Linked DNA regions of Homo sapiens. The protein of the gene in region 1 purifies or fractionates together with the protein of each later gene. This does not show direct contact. Each region holds a gene or a part of one and is shown in the gene's direction. Other genes may lie near its edges.

Region 1 (7,575 bases):
CAAACACAGTGAGACTCTGTCTCTATATAAGTAAAGTAAATTTTATATATATATATATATATATATATATATATATTTTTTTTTTTTTTTTTTTTTTTTAAAGAAAGTTGAGGCCGGGTGTGGTGGCTCACGCCTGTAATCCCAGCACTTTGGGAGGCCAAGGCAGGCAGATTACCTGAGGTCAGGAGTTCAAGACCAATCTGGTCAACATGGTGAAACCCCGTCTCTACTAAAAATACAAAAATCTGTTGGAAGTGGTGGCACGCACCTGTAATTCCAGCTACTCAGGAGGCTGAGGCAGGAGAATCGCTTGAACCTGGGAGGTAGAGGTTGCAGTGAGCTGAGATCATGAGCTGAGATCATGCCACCACACCCCAGCCTGGGCAACAGAGCAAAACTCCGTCTCAAAAAGAAAAAAAAAAAAGAAAGTTGAGCAAGCTAGGGTGATTTTCTTTTATTTTCTTTTGTGTTTGTGTGTGCACGTGTGTGTGTGTGTGTGTGTGTGTGTATGACAGGCTTTCACTCTGTCACACAGACTGGGATGTGGTGGTGTGATTATAGCTCACTTCAGCCTCAATCTCTTGGGCTCAAGTGATCCTTTCACCCCAGCCTCCTAAGTAGCTGGGACTACAGGCAAACGCCACCGTGCCCAGCTAATTTTTAATTTAATTTTTATTTTTTGTAGAGACGAAGTCTTACTATGTTGCCCAGGCTGGTCTCGAACTCCTGGGCTCATGTGATCCTCCTGCCTTGGCATCTCAAAGTGCTGGGATGACTAGTGTGAGCCACTGTGCTTGGCCTTGAAGCTAGGGTATTTATTCACCATCTCTCATCCCTCATGGGTCCAGGATCACTCTAGGGGAATTAATTCCCTAACATTTTGACTCTGCTCCTCCCAAGGAGGCTTCCGTGGGCAGAGAACATCTGAGGCAAGAGAGACACAGGAAACTGCTTGTAAGAAAATTGTGTAGGCTGGGCGCGGCGGCTCACGCCTGTAATCCCAACACTTTGGGAGGCTGAGGCAGGCGGATCACGAGGTCAGTTGATCGAGACCATCCTGGCTAACATGGTGAAACCCCGTCTCTACTAAAAATACAAAAAATTAGCTGGGCGCGGTGGCGGACGCCTGTAGTCCCAGCTACTCGGGAGGCTGAGGCAGGAGAATGGCGTGAACCTGGGAGGTGGAGCTTGTGGTGAGCCGAGATCGCGCCACTGCACTCCAGCCTGGGTGACAGAGCGAGACTCCGTCTCAAAAAAAAAAAAAAAAGAAAGAAAGAAAATTGTGTCCACCAGGGTGCTGTGGTTCATATCTGTCATCCCAGCAACTCAGGAGGCTGAAGCAGGAGGATTACTTGAGGCCAGGAGATCAAGACCTGCCTGGGTAACACAGCCAGACTCCGTCTCTACAAAAAATTTTTTTAAGAAAGGAAATTGGCTGGGCACGGTGGCTCGCGCCTGTAATCCCAGCACTTTGGGAGGCTGAGTTGGGCGGATCACCTGAGGTCAGGAGTTCGAGACCAGCCTGACCAACATGGAGAAACCCTGTCTCTACTAAAAATACAAAATTAGCTGGGCGTGGTGGTGCATGCCTGTAATCCTAGCGACTCGGGAGGCTTAGACAGGAGAATAGCTTGAACCCAAGAGGCGGAGGTTGCGGTGAGCCGAGATTGTGCCATTGTACTCCAGCCTGCAGCCTGGGCAACAAGAACAAAACTCCGTCAAAAAAAAAAACAAACAAAAAAACAGAGAAAGGAAACTGGGACGGGTGCGGTGGCTCATGCTTGTAATCCCAGCACTTTGGGAGGCAGAGGCAGGCAGATCACTTGAGGTCAGGAGTTCGAGACCATCCTGGCCCACACGGTGAAACCCCATCTCTACTAAAAATACAAAAAATTACCTGGGCATAGTGGCGCACGCCTGTAGTCTCAGCTATTTGGGAGGCTGAGGCACGAGAGTCGCCTGAACCTGGGAGGCAGAGGTTGCAGTGAGCCAAGATTGTGCCACTGCACTCCAGCCTGGACAACAGAGTGAGACTCTATCTCAATAAAAAAACAAAAAGAAAGGAAACTGTTCGAACGTGGCCTTTAGCATGTTCTGAGGAAAATATGAGCTGAACACCAATAGCATGTGCTATAAACTGCTGGGTTTCCAATGCCTAGGATGGCTAGATACATAGACCATAACGTAGCCGGGCAGTAGTCAGAACTCAATCAATAATGAGGGAACAGATACATGGGAGGGTATCATGCTTATGGGTCTGGCAATAATTGTAGCTAATTGGAGACTTATTTCTTTAAGCCCTAGAGAGGCTCCTCTGAGGGCTGAAGTCAGTCTGCCAATGCTGAAATATTTACTGGGTGCCTAGAATGTATGGTGTACATACGTTACACTATGTAGTACATTATAACACTAACTACTGTGCTTCTTAGTGGTCAGAACCAAAGTATAGGCTGGGCTCAGTGGCTCACACCTATAATCCCAGCATTTTGAGAGGCTGAGGGGGCGGATCACTTGAGCTCAGGAGTTTGAGACCAGCCTGGCCAATATGTCGAAACCCAGTCTCTACTAAAAATAAAAGATTGGCCAGGCGTGGTGGCGGGCGCCTATAGTCCCAGCTACTCGGGAGGCTGAGGCAGGAGAATTGCATGAACATGGGTGGCAGAGGTTGCAGTGAGCCAAGATCGTGCCATTGCACTCCAGCCTGGGCGACAGAGGGAGATTGTCTCAAACAACAAACAAAAACCAAAGTATAAAACATGGCCCACTTTATATGCAAGAACTTTGTAATATTTGGGAAGACACAAAAATAACATAATTGGCCGGGCACGGTGGCTCACGCCTGTAATCCGAGCACTTTGGGAGGCCGAGGCAGGGGATCACCTGAGGTCAGGAGTTCAAGACCAGCCTGACCAACACAGTGAAACCCTGTCTCTACTAAAAATACAAAATTAGCCAGGCATGGTGGTGCATGCCTATAATCCCAGCTACTCAGGAGGCTGAGACAGGAGAATCATTTGAACCCGGGAGGCAGAGGTTGTAATGAGCTGAAATCGCACCATTGCACTCCAGCCTGGGCAACAAGAACGAAACTCCTTCTCAAAAAACAACCAAGCAAACAAACAAAGAAAAGCACATAATTAATGATAAATGACAACGCATGATTGTGAAATTGTGTGGTTCTTGATTTATATGCTGTGCATGTTCAAATAAACAGATTTAGTAAAGATTGGAATAATCAGTTGAGAAAGCTTTTTAAAAAAAAAATTTTTTTTTTTAAATAGAGACAGGATCTTGCTGTGTTGCCTAGTCTGGTCTCGAACTCCTAAGCTCAAGCCCTCCTCCTGCCTTGATCTTCCAAAGTGTTGGGATTACAGGTGTGAGCCACCATGCCTGGCCCAAGAAAGCTTTTTTTTTTTTTTTTTTTTTGAAACACAGTCTTGTTCTTGTTGCCCAGGCTGGAGTGCAGTGGCACGGTCTCGGCTCACTGCAACCTCCGCCTCCTGGGTTCAAGTGATTCTCCTGCCTCAGCCTCCCAAGTAGTTGGGATTACAGGTGCCTGCCACCACCCCCAGCTAATTTTTTGTATTTGTAGTAGAGGTAGGGTTTCATCATGTTGGCCAGGCTGGTCTCGAACTCACTCCTGACCTCGTGATCCGCCTGCCTCGGCCTCCCAAAGCGCTGGGATTACAGGCGTGAGCCACAGCGCCTGCCCCAAGAAAGCTTTTATGGGTACAGGGGGCTTGAGATTGGCTCAGGTTTGTCTAGGCAAGAGCGGGAAACAGGGCTTTCCAAATGAAGGGAAGTTGTAGATCCCAGAGGAGTCTGGCCTGGCCTCTGTAGAGGTTTGGACCTGGGACTTGCAGAAACCAGATTGTCTGGGAAAGTTAGGCCCAAATCATGGTTACATTTGAAAATCAGGCAGTGCAGTTGGGTCTGCTGTGAGACACCAAAGGGGTTTATTAGTGGTTTCTGAGCAAGCAAGCAACATGATAAAAATAGCATTTGAGGAAGGCTAAACAGGATTAAAAAGAGCAGGTCAGGGAGGTCAGCCTGAAAGACCTAGACTAAGGTGGTATCCAGGGAATTTGAGTTAATGATGCTTATGGATTCATTAAAACAATTTTTTCCGCCGGGCGTGGTGGCTCATGCCTGTCATCTCAGCACTTTGGGATGCCGAAGCGGGTGGATAACCTGAGGTCGGGAGTCAAGACCAGCCTGACCAACATGGAGAAACCCTGTCACTACTAAAAGTACAAGAACAACAAAAAATTAGCCGGGCATGGTGGCACATGCCTGTAATCCCAGCTACTCGGGAGGCTGAGGCAGGAGAATCGCTTGAACCTGGGAGGCGGAGGTTGCGGTGAGCCAAGACTGTTGTGCCATTGCCCTCCAGCCTGGGCGACAAGAGTGAAACTCTGTCTCAAAAAAAACTCACAATTTTTTTCATGAAGAAAATCTGTTCTTTTAATAATGAAAATTTCAAACTTCACAAAAGTAAAGAGAATTGTATAATGAATTCTCATATACCATCACCCAGATTCCAAGGTTTTATCAAGATTTTGTCATGTCTACTTTATCCATTCTGTCTCTTCTTAAGCATTTTAAAACAATCCAGGACTTCTTGACATTTCACAGGGGCCTTTTTTTCTTTTCTTTTTTTTTTTTTTTTGAGACAGAGTCTCACTCTGTCGCCTAGGCTGGAGAGCAGTGGTGAGATCTTGGCTCACTGCAACCTCCACCTCCCGGGTTCAACCGATTCTCCTGCCTCAGCCTCCTGAGTAGCTGGGATTACAGGCATGCACCACCATGCCCGGCTAATTTTTGTATTTTTGGTAGAGACTGGGTTTCACCGTGTTGGGCCAGGCTGGTCTCAAACTCCTGACCTCAGGTGATCTGCCTGCCTTGGCCTCCCAAAGTGCTGGGATTACAGGCATGAGCCACTGTGCCCGCTTTCTTTTTTTTTTTTTTTTTTTGAGATGAAGTCTTGCTCTGTCACCTAGGCTGGAGTACAATGGCATGATCTTGGCTCACTGTAACCTCTACATCCTGGGTTCAAGCAATTCTCCTGTCTCAACCTCCTGAGTAGCTGGAATTACAGGTGTGCACCACCACACCCGGCTAATTTTTTTGTATTTTTGTAGAGACAGGGTATCACCATGTTGGCCAGGCGGGTCTCAAACTCCTGACCTCAACTGATCCACCCATCTTGGCCTCCCAAATTGCTGGGATTACAGGTGTGAGTCACCGTGCCCGGCCTGGCCTTTTTTTCTTTTTTAGACAGGGTCTGGTTCTGACACCCAGGCTAGAGTGCAATGGTGCCATCATAACTCCCTGTAACCTAGAACTCCTGGGTAATTAGAACTCCAGCTAATTAAAAAATTTTTTTTGGCTAGGCGTGGTGGCTCACGTCTGTAGTCTCAGCACTTTGGGAGGCCGAGGTGGGCAGATCACAAAAATTAGCTGGGCGTGGTGGCAGGCGCCTGTAATCCCAGCTGCTCGGGAGGCTGAGGCAGGAGAATCGCTTAAGCCCAGGAGGCGGAGGTTGCAGTGAGCCGAGATCGCGCCATTGCACTCCAGCCTGGGCGACAGAGCAAGACCCCGTCTCAAAAAACAAAGACAAGCCAAAAAAATTTTTTTTGTAGAGAGAGCGTCTTGCTGTCTACCCAGACTGGTCTGGAACTCCTGAGCTCAAGCGATTCTCTTGCTTTACGCTCCCAAAGTGCTGGGATTACAAGGTGTGAGCCACCATGCCTGGCCACAGGGGTTCTTTTAAGAGAAGAAAATCAACATAATCTGATGGCTGACTAGAACTAAAAGGAGAAAAATGAGGCTGGTTGTGGTGGCTCACACCTGTAGTCCCAGCACTTTGGAAGACTAAGGCAGGAGGATTGCTTGAGCCTAGGAGTTCGAGGCTGCAGTGAGCTATGATCATGCCACTGCACTCCAGGTAAGAGCCACCACGCCTGGCCAAGACCCTGTCTCTTTTTTTTTTTTGAGACGGAGTCTCGCTCGTTGCCCAGGCTGGAGTGCAGTGGTGCTATCTCGGCTCACTGCAAGCTCCGCCTCCCGGGTTCACGCCATTCTCCTGCCTCAGCCTCCCGAGTAGCTGGGACTACAGGCGCCCGCCACCACGGCCGGCTAATTTTTTGTATTTTTAGTAGAGATGGGGTTTCACCGTGTTAGCCAGGATGGTCTCGATCTCCTGACCTCGTGATCCGCCCGCCTCGGCCTCCCAAAGTGTTGGGATTACAGGCGTGAGCCACCACGCCCAGCCTGACCCTGTCTCTTAAAAAAAAAAAAAAAAAAAAAAAAAATAGGCCGGGCGCAGTGGCTCATGCCTGTAATCCCAGCATTTTGGGAGGCCAAGGCGGGCAGACCACCTGAGGTCAAGAGTTCGAGACCAGCCTCAACATGGAGAAACCCCGTCTCTACTAAAAATACAAAATTAGCCGGGCGTGGTGGTGCATGCCTGTAATCCCAGCTACTCGGGAGGCTGAGGCAGGAGAATTGCTTGAACCTGGGAGGCAGAGGTTGCGGTGAGCCAAGATCGCGCCATTGCACTCCAGCCTGGGCAACAAGAGTGAAACTCCGTCTCAAAAAAATAAAAAATAAAATAAAAAAATAAAAACAGACACAAAGTGCTCTCCCTCACTGGCTCAAGCTCTGGTGATTGGAGAGGTGAGAAGGGGGGCCAGGTGCAGTGGCTCACACCTGTAATCCCAGCACTTTGGGAGGCCAAGGCAGGCGGATCACCTGAGGTCGGGAGTTTGAGACCAGCCTTACCAACATGGAGAAACCCCGTCTCTACTAAAAATACAAAAAAAATTAGTCGGGTGTGGTAGAGCCTGCCTGTAATCCCGGCTACTCAGGAGGCTGAGGCAGGAGAATCGCTTGAGACCAGGAGGTGGAGGTTGCGGTGAGCCAAGATCATGCCATTGCACTCCAACCTGGGCAATGAGAGTGAAACTTGCTCTCAAAAAAAAAAAAAAAAAAAAAAAAAAAAAGAGGTGAGAAGAGAACCAGGAGACACTGTGTCCTGGAAACCAAGAAGGAGAAGCATTTTAGAAGGAATGGTAATAGACAGTGGCAAATTCAGCAGATGAGCAAGGGAAAGTATAGAGGGAAAAACGCAGGTTTGGGCATTAAGGAAATCAGCAGGCAAGGCATTTGCAGTCATGTTAAGGATAAAAGTGAGCTATAGCAGAAGGTTAGGAAGGAGTGTATAGGAAGGAAATTGATGGGCTGGGCGCAGTGGCTCACACCTGTAATCCCAGCACTTTGGGAGGCCAAGGAGGGAGGATCACTTGAGGCCAGGAGTTTGAGACCAGCCTGGGCGACACAGTGAAACACCGTCTCTACCAAAACTACAAAAATTAGCTGGGCGAGATGGCGCGTGTTTGTAGTGCAGTCCCTGCCACTCAGGAGGATGAGGTGGGAGGATAACCTGAGCCCAGGAGGTTGAGGCTGCAGTGAGCTGAGATCGTGCCACTGCATTCCAGCCTGGGCAACAGCCAGACCCTGTCTCCAAAAATAAAAAAAATAAAATAGAAAGTATGGCTAAAATGGGGTGGGGAT
Region 2 (7,575 bases), on another chromosome or scaffold:
ATGATTTCGGCCGGGTGCCGTGGCTCATGCCTGTAATCCCAGCACTTTGGGAGGCCGAGGCGGGCGGATCACCTGAGGTCAGGAGTTCAAGACCAGCCTGGGCAACATGGTAAAACCCCATCTCTACAAAAATACAAAAATTAGCTGGGCATGATGGTGGGTGCCTGTAATCCCAGCTACTTGGGAGGCTGAGGCGGAAAAATCATTTGAACCTGGGAGGTGGAGTTTGCAGTGAGCCGAGATCGTGCCATTGCACTCCAGCCTAGGCAACAAAGGGAGATTCTGTCTCAAAAAAAGAAAAAGAAAGTCATGATTTCTTTTGTTTTGCCATACCCGTCCCCCCATTTTTTTGAAGTTTCCTTAATGTGCTTCAATTTAGGACTAACTTTTTTTGTTTCAGACAAATCTTCCTATTTTCAAGCTGAAAGAATCTACTGTTAGAAGAAGATACAGTGACTTTGAATGGCTGCGAAGTGAATTAGAAAGAGAGAGCAAGGTAAGAATGATTTATGATGCAACTTTAAAGCAAAACATTCCAAGTTTTAATGTTTAATATTTCTCAGGAAAATGATATTGAATAAAATGGGTAAAAGCAAATATGATTTCTTTTTTTCAAATAGTTCAGTGTCATTTTATAGAGGTAGAGTCTGTGTAAATTTTCCTTAGAACTCTTTCTCTTGTCTGCTTTGGCCCAGTTGAGGTCTTTGCTGACTCACACTTCAATAACACTTCTTAGAACCTTGTTGCTATTACTTCCTTCCTTTCCCTCATCGTCCTATTCCATCTTCCCCTCTCCACACACTTAAGCCAAGTTTCTCTTCCTCAATACATTTTATAAATGTCAGTGTATTTCCAATTTTGTTTTAGTGACATATAAGTTTTTTTCATCACATATATGTTCATGTAACAGAAGTTTCATAAAGCAGTAATGACCTCACTCTGTGTGATATGTGCTGATATTCTTCAGATTAGCGTTTTTAAATGATGGCCATGATCCACTAATGGGTTGCTGCCGGCAATTTAAAAACACTGTTACATGCCTGATCTTCTCTTAGAATAGAATTTGGTAGCTTTGGCATCAAAATAAATTAAAGCAAGGTCTCACTCTGGTGTCTCTCATTTCAGCCCTGCCTCAGAATGACATCAGAGGCAAGGAGTCATGGAAGGACGTGGTGTGCTCAGAATGATGAAAAGTTATTTTGTGACTAGAAAGTAGGTAAAAAGGTGTGGGTATGGTAGGAGTCCTGAACTAGATGAAGGCTAGTCTGTACTCATTTCTCAAGTTTAATAAGGGTTTTCTTTTTTTTTCTGTTTCTAGCCTAAGATAAAAGTGGCTGCATATGAGCACAAAATATGCAGATCATAGCATTCCAACAAAAATGTAAAGAAGGCCGGGCATGGTGGCTCATGCCTATAATCTCGGTACTTTGGTAGGCCGAGTCAGGAGGATCTCTTGAGCCCAGCAGTTCAAGACCAGCCTGGGGAACATAGTGAGGCCCCATCTCTTCCAAAATTTTTAAATATGAATAAAACTAGAAATACAAAATCTGTGTTAAGAAAGCTCTCAAACTTTACCAAAAGACCAGACCTAAATAAAGAGGGGCCAGGTGCAGTGGCTTACGCCTGTAATCCCAGCACTTCAGGAGGCCAACGTGGGTGGATCACTTAAGCCAAGGAGTTCGAGACCAGCGTGGGCAACATGCGAAACCCCATCGCTACAAAAAATACAAAAATTAGCCAGGCATGGTGACATGCACCTGTAGTCCCAGCACTCAGGAGGCTGAGGCAAGAGGATCACTTTGAGTCCAGGAGGCAGAGGTTGCAGTGAGCTGTAGTCTTGCCCCTGCACTCCAGCATGGGCACCAGAGCCAGGCCCTGTCTCAAAAAAAAAAAAAAAAAAAAAAAAAAAAAAAGTGTAATACTGTATTCCTTGTAATACTGTATTCCTCGTTTGGAATGTTTACTGTTGAAGATTTTTTTATTTTATAAACATTTTAGCTCGTCCTTTGTGTTCTAGGAGTTACAGGTAGAGCTATGAACAAATTAAGGTCCCCTCTTTTATGGTGCTTATATCCTATTAGGTAAATTGCGGGGGAGGGGGTTGTTGAAGAGAAGGCAGGAAAAATATAGTAAAATATATAGATGTCAGATGATGAGAAGCTCTAAAAAAAAAAACAAAGCTAAACTAAGGGAAGTAGGAAGTGCCAGGGGAGCCACTCTCATATAGAGCACAAGGGAAGGCCTCACTCTAGGTGACATTAGCAGAGACCTGCATGAAGTAGAGCAGTATCTTCTAACTTATTTATAAATTCATAAGATTGTAGTAGAAATTTCAGTAGGGCTGTTTATAAAGTTGCAGATTTATTTATGAGCTTTAGAATCAGAAAAAGCTCAAGAATAACCAAAAAATATTTTCAGTATATAGTGGGCAGCAGGTTATTTGTTCTACCAGACATCAAAACATCTTTTTTTTTTTTGAGACTGAGCCTCACTCTGGAGTGCAGTGGCATCATGTCGGCTCACTGCAACCTCCATCTCCGGGGTTCAAGCAATTCTCCTGCCTCAGCCTCCCGAGTAGCTGGGATTACAGGCACCCACCACCACACTCGGCTAATTTTTTTTATATTTTTAGTAGAGATGGGGTTTCATCATGTTGGCCAGGCTGGTCTCGAACTCCTGACCTCAGGTGATCCGCCCTCCTCGGCCTCCCAAAGTGCTGGGATTACAGGTGTGAGCCACTGTGCCTGACCCAAAACATATCTTAAGGCTATAGTAATTCAAACAATGTGGTGTAGTCATATGGCACTTAATGATGAGAATACATTCTAAGAAATGCATCCTTAGGTGATTTCATTGTTTGTGCAAACATCATATGAGTATACTCACACAAACCCAGGTGGTGTAGCCTACTACACACCTAGGCTATATGGTACAGCCTATTACTCCTAGACTACAAGCCTATCCAACATGTTACTGTACTTAATACTACAGGCAGTTGTAACATAGTGGGAAGCATTTGTGCATCTAAACATATAAAAGATATGGTAAAAAATACAGCGTGGAAGACTTTTTTTTTTTTAAAGCATGGAAGATTTTTTAAATAGTACACCTGTATAGGGCACTTACCATAAATGGAGCTTGCAGGATTGAAAGTTGTTCTGGGTGAGTCAGTTAGTATGTGGCGAGTGAATGAGAAGACCTAGGACATTACTGTTTATTACTGCAGGCTTTATAAACACTGTACATTGAAATTTATAATTTATAAAATATTTTTCTTCAATAATAAATTAACCTTAGCTTACTTTTTAAACTTTTTACTTTAACTTTTTGACTCTTGTAATAACACTTAGCTTAAAACACAGACACATTGAACAAATGTACAAAAATATGTTCTTTATATTCTTATTCTATAAGCTTTTCTCTATTTAAATTTTTTTAACTTTTTCTTAAAAATTAAGTCACAAATATACATAGTAGCCTAGGCCTGCACAGAGTCAGGATCACCAAGACATCTCTAGGCAATAGGAATTTTTCACCTCCATTATAATCTTAAGGCACCACAGTTATTATCTTAAGTGGTCCATCTCTGATGGGAAACACTGTTATGCAGTGTATATTGCTTTAGGTTGGGCAAATAGATTAGTGGAATATAATAGAGTTTAGAGTTTGACCCATGTATTTATAGGGAATTTAGTTCATAACAAAAATAGCATTGTCATTCAGTGGGAAAGGAATTCAGCAAATGGAGTTGAAATATTTGTCTATTAGGAAATAAAGATTTATATCTCACTATATTACAAATTACAGATGGTTGGGAGATTGATTGATTGATTGATTGACAGAGCCTTGCTCTGTTGCCCAGGCTGAAATGCGGTGGCGTGATCATAGCATACTATAATATCCTCCAACTCCTGGTCTCAAGTGATTTTCCTGCCTCAGCCTCCCAAGTAGCTGGGACTACAGGCATGAGCCACCATGTCCAGCTAATTTTAAAAAATTTTTTGTAAGGATGAGGCTTCACTATGTTGCCCAGGCTGGTCTTGAATTCCTGGCCTCAAGTAATCCTCCTGCCTTGGCCTCCCAAAGTGCTGGGATTACAGGCATGAGCCACCACACCTAGCTGAGAAGTGTCTTGATACATAGGCTTTGGGCTTTGCTTGACATACCATGTGGCACACTGGAAATGTTTAATAAACGTTTGCTGAGTGTATATTTTGCTTTTTTTTGTAAATTTATTTATTCATTTTTTAAAAATTTTTAGTAGAGACGGGGTTTCACCGTGTTAGCAAGACGGTCTCGATCTCCTGGCCTTGTGATCCGCCCGCCTTGGCCTCCCGAAGTGCTGGGATTACAGGCGTGAGCCACCCCGCCCGACCGCTTTTGTTTTTAGTAACAGCTTTATTGAGATATAATTCACATACCATGCAATTCACCCATTTAAAGTGTATAATTCACTGGTTTTTAATATGTTCACAGAGTTGTGCAACCATCACTATTTTAGAGCACTAGTCAATTTTAGAGCATTTTTATCACCCAATAAAAGAAACCCTGTCCCCATTAGTAGACACCACTGATTTCTCCCCAACCCTTCCTCACTCAGCCTATGGCAACCACCTGCTAGTCTCCTTTCTCTGTGGATTTGCCCATTCTGGGCATATGTAAATGGAAGCCCACAATATGTGATCTTTTGTGTCTGGCTTCTTTCACTTAACATGTTTTCACAGTTCATGCTTTTCTAACATGCATCAATTACTTCATTTCTTTTTATTCCTAAATAATATCCTATTGTATGCTTATACCACATCTTATTTATACACTTATTTGGTGGACATTTTGTTCTACTTTTTGGCTGTTATTGGTAGTGCTGCTGTGAACATTTGTGCATAGGTTTCTGTCTGCATGTGTTTTCATTTCTTTTCAGTATATACCTACCAGTACATTGCTGGGTCATAACTCTTTTTAACCTTTTGAGGAATTGGCAGACCGTTTTTCCAAAGCAGCTGTGTAATTTTACATTCTTACCAGCAATGTGAGGTTCTACTTTTCTCCACATCCTTACCAATTGCCTGTCTTCTTTATTATAGCTATCCTACTGTTTGTGAAGGGGTATTGCATTGTGGTTTTGATTTTTATTTCTCTAATGGCCACTAATGTTGATTTTCTTTTCATATACTTACTGGTCATTTATGTATCTTCTTTGGAGACATCTTTATTGAGAGCTTTTGCCTTTTTCAATGGGTTCATCTTTTTATTATAGAGTTATGTCGAGAATATATAAGACTCTTAGAGTTCCCTATCAGATACATAATTTGCACATATCTCCCAGTCTCTGGGTTGTTTTTCACTTTCTTGATGTTGTCCTTTGAAGCACAATACTTCACATTTAACATTAGACCAGTTAAATATATTGAGAGTTAAATCCATGTGAAAGTTTTACTCGTATTACAGTATTGCAAAGAACAATGTAATCAAGTTATTTTGTGGTATATTAGTACTTTTAACTAAGATCTGTTAAACTAAGCTAGAAATTAGCTGACATGTATTATGGTCAGATCTTTTAGCTTTTATTCTAGTTTGCTTTAGCTTTCAATATATTGTGCTCACCAGATATTCTCCTATTTCTCACCCCACATGCACGCACATATCTTTGCATTCATGACTTTTTAATTAGTATTAGAATTTTTTTTTTTTTTTTTTGAGACGGTGTCTAGCTCTCGCCCAGGCTGGAGTACCGTGGTGCAGTCCCGGCTTACTGCAATCTCTGCCTCCCAGGCTCAAGCAATTCTCCTCAGCCTCCTGAGTAAAGGGGTTACAAGCATGCACCACCATGCCCGGCTAATTTTTTGTATTTTTAGTAGACACAGGGTTTCACCATGTTGGCCAGGCTGGTCTTGAACTTCTGACCTCAGGTGATCCACCCACCTTGGCCTCCTGAAGTGCTGGGATTACATATGTGAGCTACCGCACCCAACCTGGTGTTAGAATTCCAGTTAGGTGTTTTCAGACTGCTTCAGCAAAAATAATTTGATGTAGAAGAGAATCTTAGCTGGATGAGCCATTTATGATTTTTATAGATCATTAATCCTGTTGCCTACCACCTCCCCATCCATTTGAATGACTAGTTTGAATATGTTAGGAAGAGTGTATCTCTACAGAGGATAATGCATAGCTATCCTTTTCTTAAATTCCCATTATATATGAAATTTATATATATTTAATTATATATATATTGTTACATTTTTTATCATTTTCCTTCTTTCTTTAACTGACATCCTTGAGCTATCCTTTTCTTAAGTTTCATGCTAAATTCTACCCTGAATTAATGGTGGTCATTTATTTAACACAGTGGTTCCAGAATTCTTTTTTTAAATAATAATTGTGTAGATACAGATATTTTTCCCTGCCCACCAGATAGCCATTCTACTGGAACGTAATGGTTAGCATTCCTTTGTTTCTCAGTTATAGAAGGTCCCTGCAGATTTTAACTCTCAACTAAACAGATGTTAACATGGGGGTGAGATCTGAGAATGCTAGCATAAATTTACGGAGACAAATCCATAGATATCTTCATCATTGGTCATCTGAGGAGAGTAAATCTAGGAAGGGATTATAAAGTTTATTTGGACATTTGGTTTTTTTGTTTTTATTTTGTTTTTTGTTAATCTATATGAAGTCGAGTTGCTCTTTCCCTTTTTTACCCTATTGAATTTTGTTTGAGGATAAACAACTCGTTGTAGAAACTATATCAAGGGTTTAAAGTTTTAATTTTTTTGAATATGTGTAATTTGTATTATTGGTGAAAAGAAAAATATGTATCAGTTTACTATATATATTTCTCCTTGTTCTGATTGTTTGCTTACACATTTCTCTGTTTGCGTTTAAAGTAAGGATCCAGCTAAGTGGTTGGTCATTTAACAGATATTTGAGCTTCTGTTGTATGCCCAGTTTTTCTTAAAATAACCACAAGAAGCCTAAGACAGGGGTCTTGATTTGAAGACATTAGTATGATAGATTGATGGTTTTCCACCAAAGGCAGTTTTATCCCCCAGGAGACGTTTGACACTGTCTAGAGACATTTTTTATTGTCTCAGCTGGGGGTGCTATGTTGTCTAGTGGGCAGAGGCTAGGGATGCTGCTAAAGAAAAGAATGCCAGCCTGGCCAACACAGTGAAACACCATCTCCACAAAAAATAGAAAAATTAGCCAGGCGTGGTAGCACGCTATGTACCTGTAGTGTCCCGGCTATTTGGGAGGCTGATGCAGGAGGATCATCTGAGTCTGGGGGAGGCTGCAGCGAGCCATGATCGCACCACGGAACTCCAGCCTGGGTGACAGAGCAAGACCCCATCTCAAGAAAGAAAAGAATGCACAAGAAAGCCCCCCAGTACAAAACTTATCTGATTCTCAGTAGTGCTAGGGTAGAGAAACCAAACTAACCTGTGAAATAGCTAGGTGCTATTTAATCAAAACAAGTATTTTGAGCTCCAGAATAACATTTTTAAAAATTTATTTTTTTTTTAAGACGGGGTCTCGCTGTCACCTAGGCTGGAGTGCAGCGACATTTTAGTTCACTCC

Evidence for each region. Proteins that work in one complex are often made in the same cells at the same time.
Region 2: the proteins of SIRT4 (region 1) and SNX3 purify together in Homo sapiens (affinity purification with mass spectrometry; 2 studies listed by BioGRID and IntAct, with this or other methods). This does not show direct contact.

The regions. Positions count from the first base shown.
Region 1 is NC_000012.12:120,304,761-120,312,335, forward strand, and holds part of SIRT4 (NAD-dependent protein lipoamidase sirtuin-4, mitochondrial), read left to right. Parts: intron 1-7,575. UniProt on the Homo sapiens protein: Acts as a NAD-dependent protein lipoamidase, biotinylase, deacetylase and ADP-ribosyl transferase. Catalyzes more efficiently removal of lipoyl- and biotinyl- than acetyl-lysine modifications.
Region 2 is NC_000006.12:108,215,871-108,223,445, reverse strand, and holds part of SNX3 (sorting nexin-3), read left to right. Parts: intron 1-400; coding exon 401-496; intron 497-7,575. UniProt on the Homo sapiens protein: Phosphoinositide-binding protein required for multivesicular body formation. Specifically binds phosphatidylinositol 3-phosphate (PtdIns(P3)).